Linked DNA regions of Homo sapiens. The protein of the gene in region 3 purifies or fractionates together with the protein of the main gene of each other region. This does not show direct contact. Each region holds a gene or a part of one and is shown on either strand. Other genes may lie near its edges. The genes, in order: HSPG2, KCTD3 and EOLA1.

What was found.
Region 1: the proteins of EOLA1 (region 3) and HSPG2 purify together in Homo sapiens (co-immunoprecipitation; one large-scale study listed by IntAct). This does not show direct contact.
Region 2: the proteins of EOLA1 (region 3) and KCTD3 purify together in Homo sapiens (co-immunoprecipitation; one large-scale study listed by IntAct). This does not show direct contact.

Annotation. Positions count from the first base shown.
Region 1 is NC_000001.11:21,850,311-21,853,963, reverse strand, and holds part of HSPG2 (basement membrane-specific heparan sulfate proteoglycan core protein isoform b precursor), read left to right. Parts: intron 1-893; coding exon 894-1,045; intron 1,046-1,131; coding exon 1,132-1,264; intron 1,265-1,730; coding exon 1,731-1,876; intron 1,877-2,037; coding exon 2,038-2,173; intron 2,174-2,266; coding exon 2,267-2,418; intron 2,419-3,465; coding exon 3,466-3,601; intron 3,602-3,653. UniProt on the Homo sapiens protein: Integral component of basement membranes. Component of the glomerular basement membrane (GBM), responsible for the fixed negative electrostatic membrane charge, and which provides a barrier which is both size- and charge-selective.
Region 2 is NC_000001.11:215,577,151-215,580,803, reverse strand, and holds part of KCTD3 (BTB/POZ domain-containing protein KCTD3), read right to left. Parts: intron 3,135-3,653; coding exon 3,076-3,134; intron 2,876-3,075; exon of another isoform or gene 2,814-2,875; coding exon of another isoform or gene 2,804-2,813; coding exon 2,723-2,803; intron 1,805-2,722; coding exon 1,667-1,804; intron 896-1,666; coding exon 805-895; intron 1-804. UniProt on the Homo sapiens protein: Accessory subunit of potassium/sodium hyperpolarization-activated cyclic nucleotide-gated channel 3 (HCN3) up-regulating its cell-surface expression and current density without affecting its voltage dependence and kinetics.
Region 3 is NC_000023.11:149,543,942-149,546,504, forward strand, and holds part of EOLA1 (protein EOLA1), read left to right. Parts: exon of another isoform or gene 1-1,150; coding exon of another isoform or gene 1,151-1,187; intron 1,188-1,426; coding exon of another isoform or gene 1,427-1,559; intron 1,560-1,660; coding exon of another isoform or gene 1,661-1,689; coding exon 1,690-1,942; intron 1,943-2,563. UniProt on the Homo sapiens protein: May play a role in cell protection during the inflammatory response. In epithelial cells, negatively regulates IL6 production and apoptosis through the regulation of MT2A expression.

The DNA.
Region 1 (3,653 bases), on a different chromosome or scaffold from region 3:
CAGAATGTCCAGGTTGAATACTAAGCTGGGAGTCGGCTGACCTGGTTCAAATCCCAGATCTGCCCCTTAGCAACCTTGAACTAGCTTTTAACTTTTGGGGCCTCAGATTCATCTATGAAATGGAGCAGTACTGCCCACCTGCTTGGTCATGGTGTGGTTTTTTTATTATTTTATTTTATTTTATTTTATTTTATTTTATTTTATTTTATTTTTTTGAGAGAGAGTCTCGCTCTGTCACCCAGGCTGGAGTGCAGTGGCGCGTGATCTCGGCTCACTGCAAGCTCCGCCTTCCGGGTTCACACCATTCTCCTGCCTCAGCCTTCTGAGTAGCTAGGACTACAGGCACACCCGCCACCAGGCCGGCTAATTTTTTGTATTTTTTTTAGTAGAGACGGGGTTTCACCGTGTTAGCCAGGATGGTCTCGATCTCCTGACCTCGTGATCCGACCGTCTCAGCCTCCCAAAGTGCTGGGATTATAGGCATGAGCCACCGCGCCTGGCCAGTCATGGTGTGGTTTAAATGAGACAGTGTCTATGGAAAGTACTTGTGAGCACACGGAAGACGTCCTGTAGAAGGGAGGTGTCTCACTGTCATCCGCATCCTTGGGCGCAGCCTGGGTAGTAAAGCTTGCTGGTTCCCTATGGGCCAGAGGAGCTCATCATCAAGAAGTCATGGGTGGGTCAATGGGCCTCCAGCTTGTGGTTAGAGGCTGGGGAGGGAAGAAGCCATATTCGGCTGGCCATGTGGAGGCAGAAGGGTGTGGCCCTAGTCCCAGAAAGGCCACCTGTCGGCCGTCCCCACTAGGGCCTGGTCACAGCCCAGAGCCTTCTGCCCCAGGGCTACAGGTTACAGCCCAAGAGTTCAGGCCTCTGAGCAGCCGCTCTGTGTCCAGTGCCCGGCAGCACCCGGCCCATCCGCATCGAGCCCTCCTCCTCACACGTGGCGGAAGGGCAGACCCTGGATCTGAACTGCGTGGTGCCCGGGCAGGCCCACGCCCAGGTCACGTGGCACAAGCGTGGGGGCAGCCTCCCTGCCCGGCACCAGGTATGGCAGCCCCCCGGGACCACCTTGCTGGAGGGGCTGGATGGGACTGTTCCAGCCCCCTCCCAACCCACCCCATTTGCACACAGACCCACGGCTCGCTGCTGCGGCTGCACCAGGTGACCCCGGCCGACTCAGGCGAGTATGTGTGCCATGTGGTGGGCACCTCCGGCCCCCTAGAGGCCTCAGTCCTGGTCACCATCGAAGCCTCTGTCATCCCTGGTGAGTGACTCCCAGTGACATGGAAAGCTGGAGGAGGCAGAGAGGCCTCCGGGGTGGTGAGATCCAAGGGACCCCTCTTGCTGACAGGGCAGAAGGCCCACACCGGAGCTGGCTGCAGGGCCCTGCCCAGGCCGACTCCACCTGTCAGAGTAACCACCGCCTTCCCGTCACACTTTGCTTTGGCCACATGACTCCTCAGGCGTCCCCTCCCACCTCCTCTTCCTCTCTCCAACTCATCTCTGCCCTCATCTCTCTCACTTCCTCACTCCCCTCTGCAAGGCGTGGCCCATGCCCTGGTCCTCCCATCAGGGTTGCTGAGCTGAGGGCATCAAGTCCAGGCCCCCAGATGCCTGAAAAGCTGGATCTGGCCTTGAAACCCTGGGCTGAGCTAGCTGCAGGGTGGGCAACCCCTGCCCTCTCATCTCAGGAGCATCTACAACTCTCACTCCCATCCCCACTGCTGCAGGACCCATCCCACCTGTCAGGATCGAGTCTTCATCCTCCACAGTGGCCGAGGGCCAGACCCTGGATCTGAGCTGCGTGGTGGCAGGGCAGGCCCACGCCCAGGTCACATGGTACAAGCGTGGGGGCAGCCTCCCTGCCCGGCACCAGGTACAGGGCACCAAGAATGTGGGACGGGGCCATGGACAGTGGGTTGCAGGATCCTGGCCCCTAGGCTGAGGGGCTGGCACTTCCTAGATCGGGGGGACAGCGGTGGGGCATTTGCTGGCCTCCGGGAAGCCCCCCTCACACCTCTGCCCACGGCTGCCCAGGTTCGTGGCTCCCGCCTGTACATCTTCCAGGCCTCACCTGCCGATGCGGGACAGTACGTCTGCCGGGCCAGCAACGGCATGGAGGCCTCCATCACGGTCACAGTAACTGGGACCCAGGGGGCCAACTTAGCCTACCGTGAGTGGGGCCACCAGGCTGGGCTGGGATGCAGAGAACAGGCTGGAGTGGCTTCAGAGAACAGGAGTGACCGGTGACCATCTTATCCCTCAGCTGCCGGCAGCACCCAGCCCATCCGCATCGAGCCCTCCTCCTCGCAAGTGGCGGAAGGGCAGACCCTGGATCTGAACTGCGTGGTGCCCGGGCAGTCCCATGCCCAGGTCACGTGGCACAAGCGTGGGGGCAGCCTCCCTGTCCGGCACCAGGTATGGGACTGGAGGACAGACAGGCCAAGAAGAGGAAGCGGGTCCCTGGGTGGCGGAGGTTATTGGGGGAGGGCTAGAGGCTCCCCTGAGATCAGGAAGCCCTGGACCCCATTGCACAGATGTATAGTGCAGTGGTTAGAAACCAGAATCTAGGACTGACTAACCTGGGTGTGAATTCTGGCTCCACCACTTAGCTTGTGACCTCGGACAAGTTACTTAACCTCTCTGTGCTATAGTTTCAGGGCCTATAAAATGGTAACAATGGTACGTACCAGCCGGGCACGGTGGCTTACGCCTGTAATCCCAGCACTTTGGGAGGCCGAGGTGGGCGAATCGCCTGAGGTCGGGAGTTCGAGACCAGCCTGGCCAGTATGGTGAAACCCCATCTCTATTAAAAATATAAAAATTAGCCGGGCATAGTGGCAGGCGCCTGTAATCCCAGCTACTCGGGAAGCTGAGGCAGGAGAATCGCTTGAACCCAGGAGGCGGAGGCTGCAGTGAGCCAAGATCACGCCATTGCACTCCAGCCTGGGCAACAGAGCGAGACTCAGTCTCAAAAAAAAAAAAAAAAGTACCTCACAGAATTATCTTAAAGATTAAAATATATGCAAAATCCTCAGAGCTTAGGCTCACAGAAAGTACTCTAAGCTGTTAATATTTTACTATAATGCCATTAGCTATTGTTGTTACCATATTTTGTAGAATTTAGGATACCACTGATTGCGAGATCCGCTATGATTTTATGTACCTCTAAGAAAAAGCTTCTATTTGTAAGGTTATTCATTGTAGATGCATCTTGATTTTGGAGACATCGAAATGTGTGTCTAGAATTGATGGGATGTGGTGTGAGTGTGTACCCAGCTCACTGGGGCTCCTCTGGTCTACCACCCCGCTGCTGGACAAGAGTCCCCCTTCCCCATGTGAAGGACAGGGAAACTGATCCAGAGCTGATGGCCAGGCCTTGGGGGTCAGAGTGAGGCAGGGTTGCAGGTTATAGGAACAGGGGTCTCCTGAGGGCTCCCTCTGACTCACCCCCATTCTGGCCAGACCCACGGCTCCCTGCTGAGACTCTACCAAGCGTCCCCCGCCGACTCGGGCGAGTACGTGTGCCGAGTGTTGGGCAGCTCCGTGCCTCTAGAGGCCTCTGTCCTGGTCACCATTGAGCCTGCGGGCTCAGTGCCTGGTGAGTAGCTCTCAGGGAGGGCAGGGCTGGGGACCCAGGGTGGGAGGCCCCC
Region 2 (3,653 bases), on a different chromosome or scaffold from region 3:
CATTTTAGATATTTTTCAGCTTATTGTGACTATTTTTCTTAACCGAACTCAACAGTGATAAACAAATAGTTTATGTATCTTTGATTTTTCTGCAATTAAATGAAATAATAATCTAAGCTAGTATATTCCAACCACTTTTGTGCTTCTACACCATTCTCTGTCATCAACATTTCTCAATGAGTACAGTGATTTTGAACTAAGAGTCCTATCACTTTCCCAATTAAAAAAAAAAAAATCACCGGTCTACACTATTCTTCATTGCTTCTCAGGCTCTGAGAATGTAAGCATTAGTAAAACCAAACTACTTCTTTGTAAGTTTCACATATTAGATATTAAACTATACCACTTGTGCAATAACTGTCCTGCTTTACTACCTCACTTCCCAAAATGTGGTATTTATGACCAATGTACTCTCCCTTGCTATAGAATACAAAACACTGAATCATTAGAGATAGACCATCAGGGAGCTCACATTAATAATCCTGTCTAACATCATTATATACTACAGTCTCAGAAGCTAGGTATAAGCAATAAATAATACATCAGGATATCTCAGTTACATGACAATTCACACTTGTCTGCTAAATGTTTACAACAGATAAAGGCTATCAGAAACATTTACCAAATTAGCTGTGAAAATAAAAGTACACTAAATCTTAATCAGATGATACAGACATGGGTAAAATATGCAGGGAAAAAACTTGATGACTAAAAAAAAATAGCTTTTCAATCTAAAAATATAAAATCACAATTAATTTTCAAACTGCCACCTGTAAAAGCAAAGCATTATTAATTATACACTACCTGTAACACACAGCAAAATGGGCATATGCAGCTACAATCCAGTTGTGATGGCCAGCTACTATTAGCACCTTTCGTGGATCCACAGGAAATCCTGTTGATTTTGGAAAAAGAAATATTTTACATTCTAAACCGGGGGTTGGCAAATTACAGCCACCAGGCCAGTTTCAGCCTTCTGCCTGTTTTGGTTAATAGTTTTGTTAAGAGCCGGGCACAGTGGCTCACACCTGTAATCCCAGCACTTTGGGAGGCCGAGGCGGGCGGATCATGAGGTCAGGGGATCGAGACCATACTGGCTAACACGGTGAAACCTCATCTCTATTAAAAATACAAAAAATTAGTCTGGCATGGTGGCGGCCGCCTGTAGTCCCAGCTACTCCGGAGGCTGAGGCAGGAGAATGGCGTAAACCCAGGAGGCAGAGCTTGCAGTGAGCCAAGATGGCACCACTGCACTCCAGCCTGAGCGACAGAGCGAGACTCCGTCTCAAAAAAAAAAAAAAAAATAGTTTTGTTAGAACCCAGCCATGCTTACTTGTTACATATTGTCCATTATGTGTTCATGCTACAATGGCAAAGTTGAGTAGGTCTGACAGAGAACACGTGGCCCACAAAGCCTAAAATATTTAATCTCTGGCTCTTACCAGATAAATTTTGGCAACCCTGTTCTAAAGATTCAGAGAAGATAGAAGATTACACAACATTTTAAATAAAAATTAAGTGTTAAATGAGACCTTTCCAAGATATAAATGATAAATCTGGATAAAAAAGGAGATGAGGCAAAAATCTTTAAAAGTAATTACTCAATATCACCCAGCACTAAAAACATACGTATTTTTCTTTTTCTATTTCTGTAATCTTTGCTTACCTAGCCTAACAGTTTCTTCTCCCGTTCCAGAGAGAACAGGCTGTGTACCATTTCCCCGGGCTTCACCTTCTGTAGAATTTAGACCATTCCTAGAATCAGCAGATCTGACTGTGTTGTTTATTTTACGACTAGGAATACCTATAAAGAGAAGAAGAAAACAAATACATTCCTAAGTTCACCTTTCAAAAATTAAAAATATCACATTGTGACAAAGAAACAAAAATGTGAATTTCATTAAAGCCGAAATACATCTTCCAATATAGCAAATTATTACAAATAATTTAATTACAATTAAAAAATAAAATGAAAATGAAAAAAACAAAGACAAAGACAAAATTCTGTCAACAGATTTCTGGTATTGTCATACTGTTTACAATAAATAAGCTTTAGGTTACTGAATTAATGGGTAATTAATTCAGTCTGCCAGCCACTCTTTACAATTATGGTACAGGTATTATGTGTTAGGTACTATGTAATAATTTAACTGCTTTAGAACTGAAATTCCCCATACTTTCAAACATTTTTTATTTGACAGGGGAACATTTTTTAAAATGAAATCTTGCTCAGAAGTCCATTATAACACAGGTAAAATCAGGCTCTTCTAACTAAAGTGGGGCTGAGGTGACACTGACTTATCTCTGCAGAATTCCTTAAATTTTGCAAAAAAGCAGTTTGACAACCAGTGCTCTAACATATGGGTCAGCAAACTATGGGCCATGGAAAATCCAGCCCAATCAATGCTATTTATGTAAATAAAGTTGTAGTGGTTACAGTTAAACCTAGTCTTCATGTAGTATACACAGCGGAGTTAAGTGGCTGTCACAGAGATCCTCTGGCTCACAAAATCTATCTGGCTCTTTACAGAAAAAGTTTGCCAAACCCCTGCTCCAATATATAATGTGACTTAATTTCTATAAAAATCAAAAGTTCTTACCATTTCTAATAGATTTATAGACAAAAAACTCAATAATCAAGGAGCAGTTTTTCCTATTCATATGCTTGTACTTGCTTAATGATACAAGGAATTTTTTAAAAGATTTAATAAAGTGAAAATACCTGGTGGGGGCAAGTAACCATGAAAAAGGACACTGCCACAAGAGGAACGCTCCAATTCTTCACATAAGAGAAGCCTTCTTACTAAAAACATTTCAAAGCAAACTTGTCAAGAGTACATGCAAACAGAAAAACAGTACTCCATTTTTATTTTCTCTAGTTCAAGAGGATAAGGAAAGAAAAGGAAAATTTTAATTAAGTCAGAGTTGACAACATCTTTTTACTATGAAAATCCACAAAAACTAAGCACTGAACAAGTCCATCAAAAATTAGGACCTGATATAAACACATTTCATTTAGGGCAACTTTCATACATGAGTCAAATCATAAACACCAAATATTAAAAGAGCACATACCTAATGGAGTGATCCCGTAAAATTCTGCTTCATGCCTGAGAACATTAATACTCACTCCCCTACAAAGAAACAAATGATGTAAATTCTCTAACACTGGAAACCTGTATTATCATCTGACATGAAAGGAAAAAATTCTAGGTTCTTCATGTATATAGTCATAAGGCTTTAAAAATTATTTTCCTCCTAATACTCTTTATTTCTATTATCCTTAATCATTAAAAAGTGTAAATAAAAACTGCATGTGAACAAAAATATTCTGTTATCTACTTAAAAACCATTCATATATATACATATATATGAATTGGGTCACTAAAGGAGAGATTAGGGCTCTATCAGGCTAGTACAAATAAATTGTCTAGAAGGCAAACGATAGAATGGAAACCATTCTTTTATGGCATTAGTTGCTTTTAACTTTTTATCGCAATTATTTCTATACATATCTATCTTAATCTCCCCAATTACACTATAAATTCCCTGCGAGCATGATCTATTTCTGATCTATGTTTGTATACCTCACAGTGCCTAGCATAGTGCTTGTATAAAATAGTTATGTAATAAATATTTGTTGAACAAATAAA
Region 3 (2,563 bases):
GCTTGTGGGGATAGGTCAGTCAGTGGAGTGGGTGGTGGGGGGGGTGGGGAATAAAGGGAGAAAGGTGGGGGTGGGGGCAGAAGGTTCAGAGAGGAAGTAGAGACTGCGCATGTAGACAGCTCTTCTGAGGTCTCGGCTGTTCAGGGTTGTAGAGAAGGGAGGCAGAGTGGGAGGCGCGCGTGTGCTCAGAGTAGGGATGCTGAGCGAGCATAGATGGTGGCTGGTGGCACCCAGGGCCCGGAGTGAGCCAGAGGAGCAGGGTCCAGAGCACAGCAGGCAACCGGCTCAGCTGAGGCAGCTCACCCCAGAGGCGGGAGAAAAGCAGGAGATCTGGAGCTCAGAAGGCTGCAGTGCAGACTGGGAAAGGAGTGAATACCAGGCAGCTTTGGCCCTATCAGGGCTTTGTCTCATGAGGGTGGGTATATTTTCTTAAAATCATAGAGCGTACTAGAGGTTGCGTTTATGTGTTGAAAGGAAGGACAGAGAGAGGAGTAGGGGCAGCTCAAGGGTGGAGTTCAGGGCCGGGGGCGGGGCCACGGGCCTGAGGGGTGAGGGCAGCCACTATTTCTGACTGTTCTATTAGGTGCCACGTACTGGGCTGGGTGCTCTTGGTGCCTTATCTCCCTTCCTCACAGCCATGTGGAAACTGAGGCATCTCAAGAGTCTATGACTGGGCTGAGGTTCTGGTTTCGAGCCCAGGGTTCCTTCCAAGGCACAGGGCCGTCCTCCATGCAAGAGGAGGGGACCCTCTCCCAAGCCAGACACGCAGGAGGCTGGGCAAGAGTTGTGGGAAGTCAGAGCCCGTGTGACTGTGGGCTGGTGCCTCATTCTCCTCAGCCATAGAGTGGGCCTCACAGTACCACTGACCCTGCTGGGTTACTTGAAGATTCAATTTGATGATCCGAGGATCATGCCATCCCAGAGGCTGGCACGTGGAAGGCATGTGTGTGGGGTTGCTAGTTGTTCTGATTATCATTCTTCTTTTCTCAGCTCAGATTGGGACAGGGGCATCTGCTGACAGTGGAGAGCAGTGGTAGGGGAAGGGGCTTGAGGAAGGTGGCACCCAGAGGGGTGGAGAGGAGATGTCTGACTGAGGGCCATCTGAGGTCACGGTGCATCCTGAGGACAGAGCTGAGATTGGATATCAACGATGTGGGCTCAGCAGCCCTGGAGTAGGAGCTGGGAAGGTCAGTGCCTTGGTGGCGGCAGGGCCAGGGCACTGAGAGTATTGGCAGGGCACAGCAGGGGAAAGGGAAGAGAAGCAGAGGGTGGGACTCTCCCTCTGTGCTGGAAGAGGGCTAACACCAGCCCGGACTCTCCACTCTGGCTAGGCCAAGGGGGCCCTCTGTCCTCTGTGTTGCCCTAGGGCTCGGTGACCTCTGTCATAGCACTGACCACATGGTATCCTGCCTGTGCCTTCCTCTAGCTGTCCCCGCCCTACTCCGGACCGCCCCAAAGACTCCATGGGATGGACCTGAGTCAGCCGAATCCCAGCCCCTTCCCTTGGGCCTGCTGTGGTGCTGGACATCAGTGACAGACGGAAGCAGGAGACCATCAAGGTCAGTGCGATTTAGGCCACCTGAGAGACACGGGGGGAAGGTCAGGCCACTGCCCATGAGCTTGGAGGGCTGGCGTGTGATGCGCTTCTGTGCTTCCGCAGGCTACGGGAGGCCCGGGGCGCTTGCGAAGATGAAGTTTGGCTGCCTCTCCTTCCGGCAGCCTTATGCTGGCTTTGTCTTAAATGGAATCAAGACTGTGGAGACGCGCTGGCGTCCCCTGCTGAGCAGCCAGCGGAACTGTACCATCGCCGTCCACATTGCTCACAGGGACTGGGAAGGCGATGCCTGGCGGGAGCTGCTGGTGGAGAGACTCGGGATGACTCCTGCTCAGATTCAGGCCTTGCTCAGGAAAGGGGAAAAGTTTGGTCGAGGAGTGATAGCGGGTAAGTGACAATGTACCAAATGCGCAGACAACGCCTAGGGCTGCTGCCCAAGATCTTGCTTGGGAATTTGGGGGCTTCTCTTGTCATCTGAACTGATTGGCGTGTATAACACAGTTTCCTTTGGCAACACACCTTCAAAGGGGCGGCAAGGACCTTGGGCTGGGGGTTGGTATGGCTGGCTTCCACGAGTTCTGGTAAATCATTTCTCCACTCTGGGCCTCAGTTCCTGTTTCTGATCTCAGTGAGAAGCCTGGTCAGGGCCATGTGCACATGGTGTTTGTGGTGTTTGGCTGTGTGTATTTGCACATACATGTGTGAGTGCACATGTGTGGCAGAGACCATGAAAAGCAGCCCAGCCCGCCGAATGGGTCAGGTGGCCTCTAGAGTTGGGCTGCCCGCCTGGCTTCATGAACCTGCCCCAGCCCCACCACTCACAGCACCCTGGGAAAGTCCCCTAACCTCTAGGTGACTGAGGCCCGACATCAGCATCTGTCCCCTGGTGACCTGCTCAGGCATCACCTGTAGCTTCCCAGGCAGTGGCTGGTGCCCTTCCAATCTGCAACCGCTGCCCTCAGAAGTCTGGCTTGGACCTGCCTCTTACTTGTGTGGCTTCATGAGGAC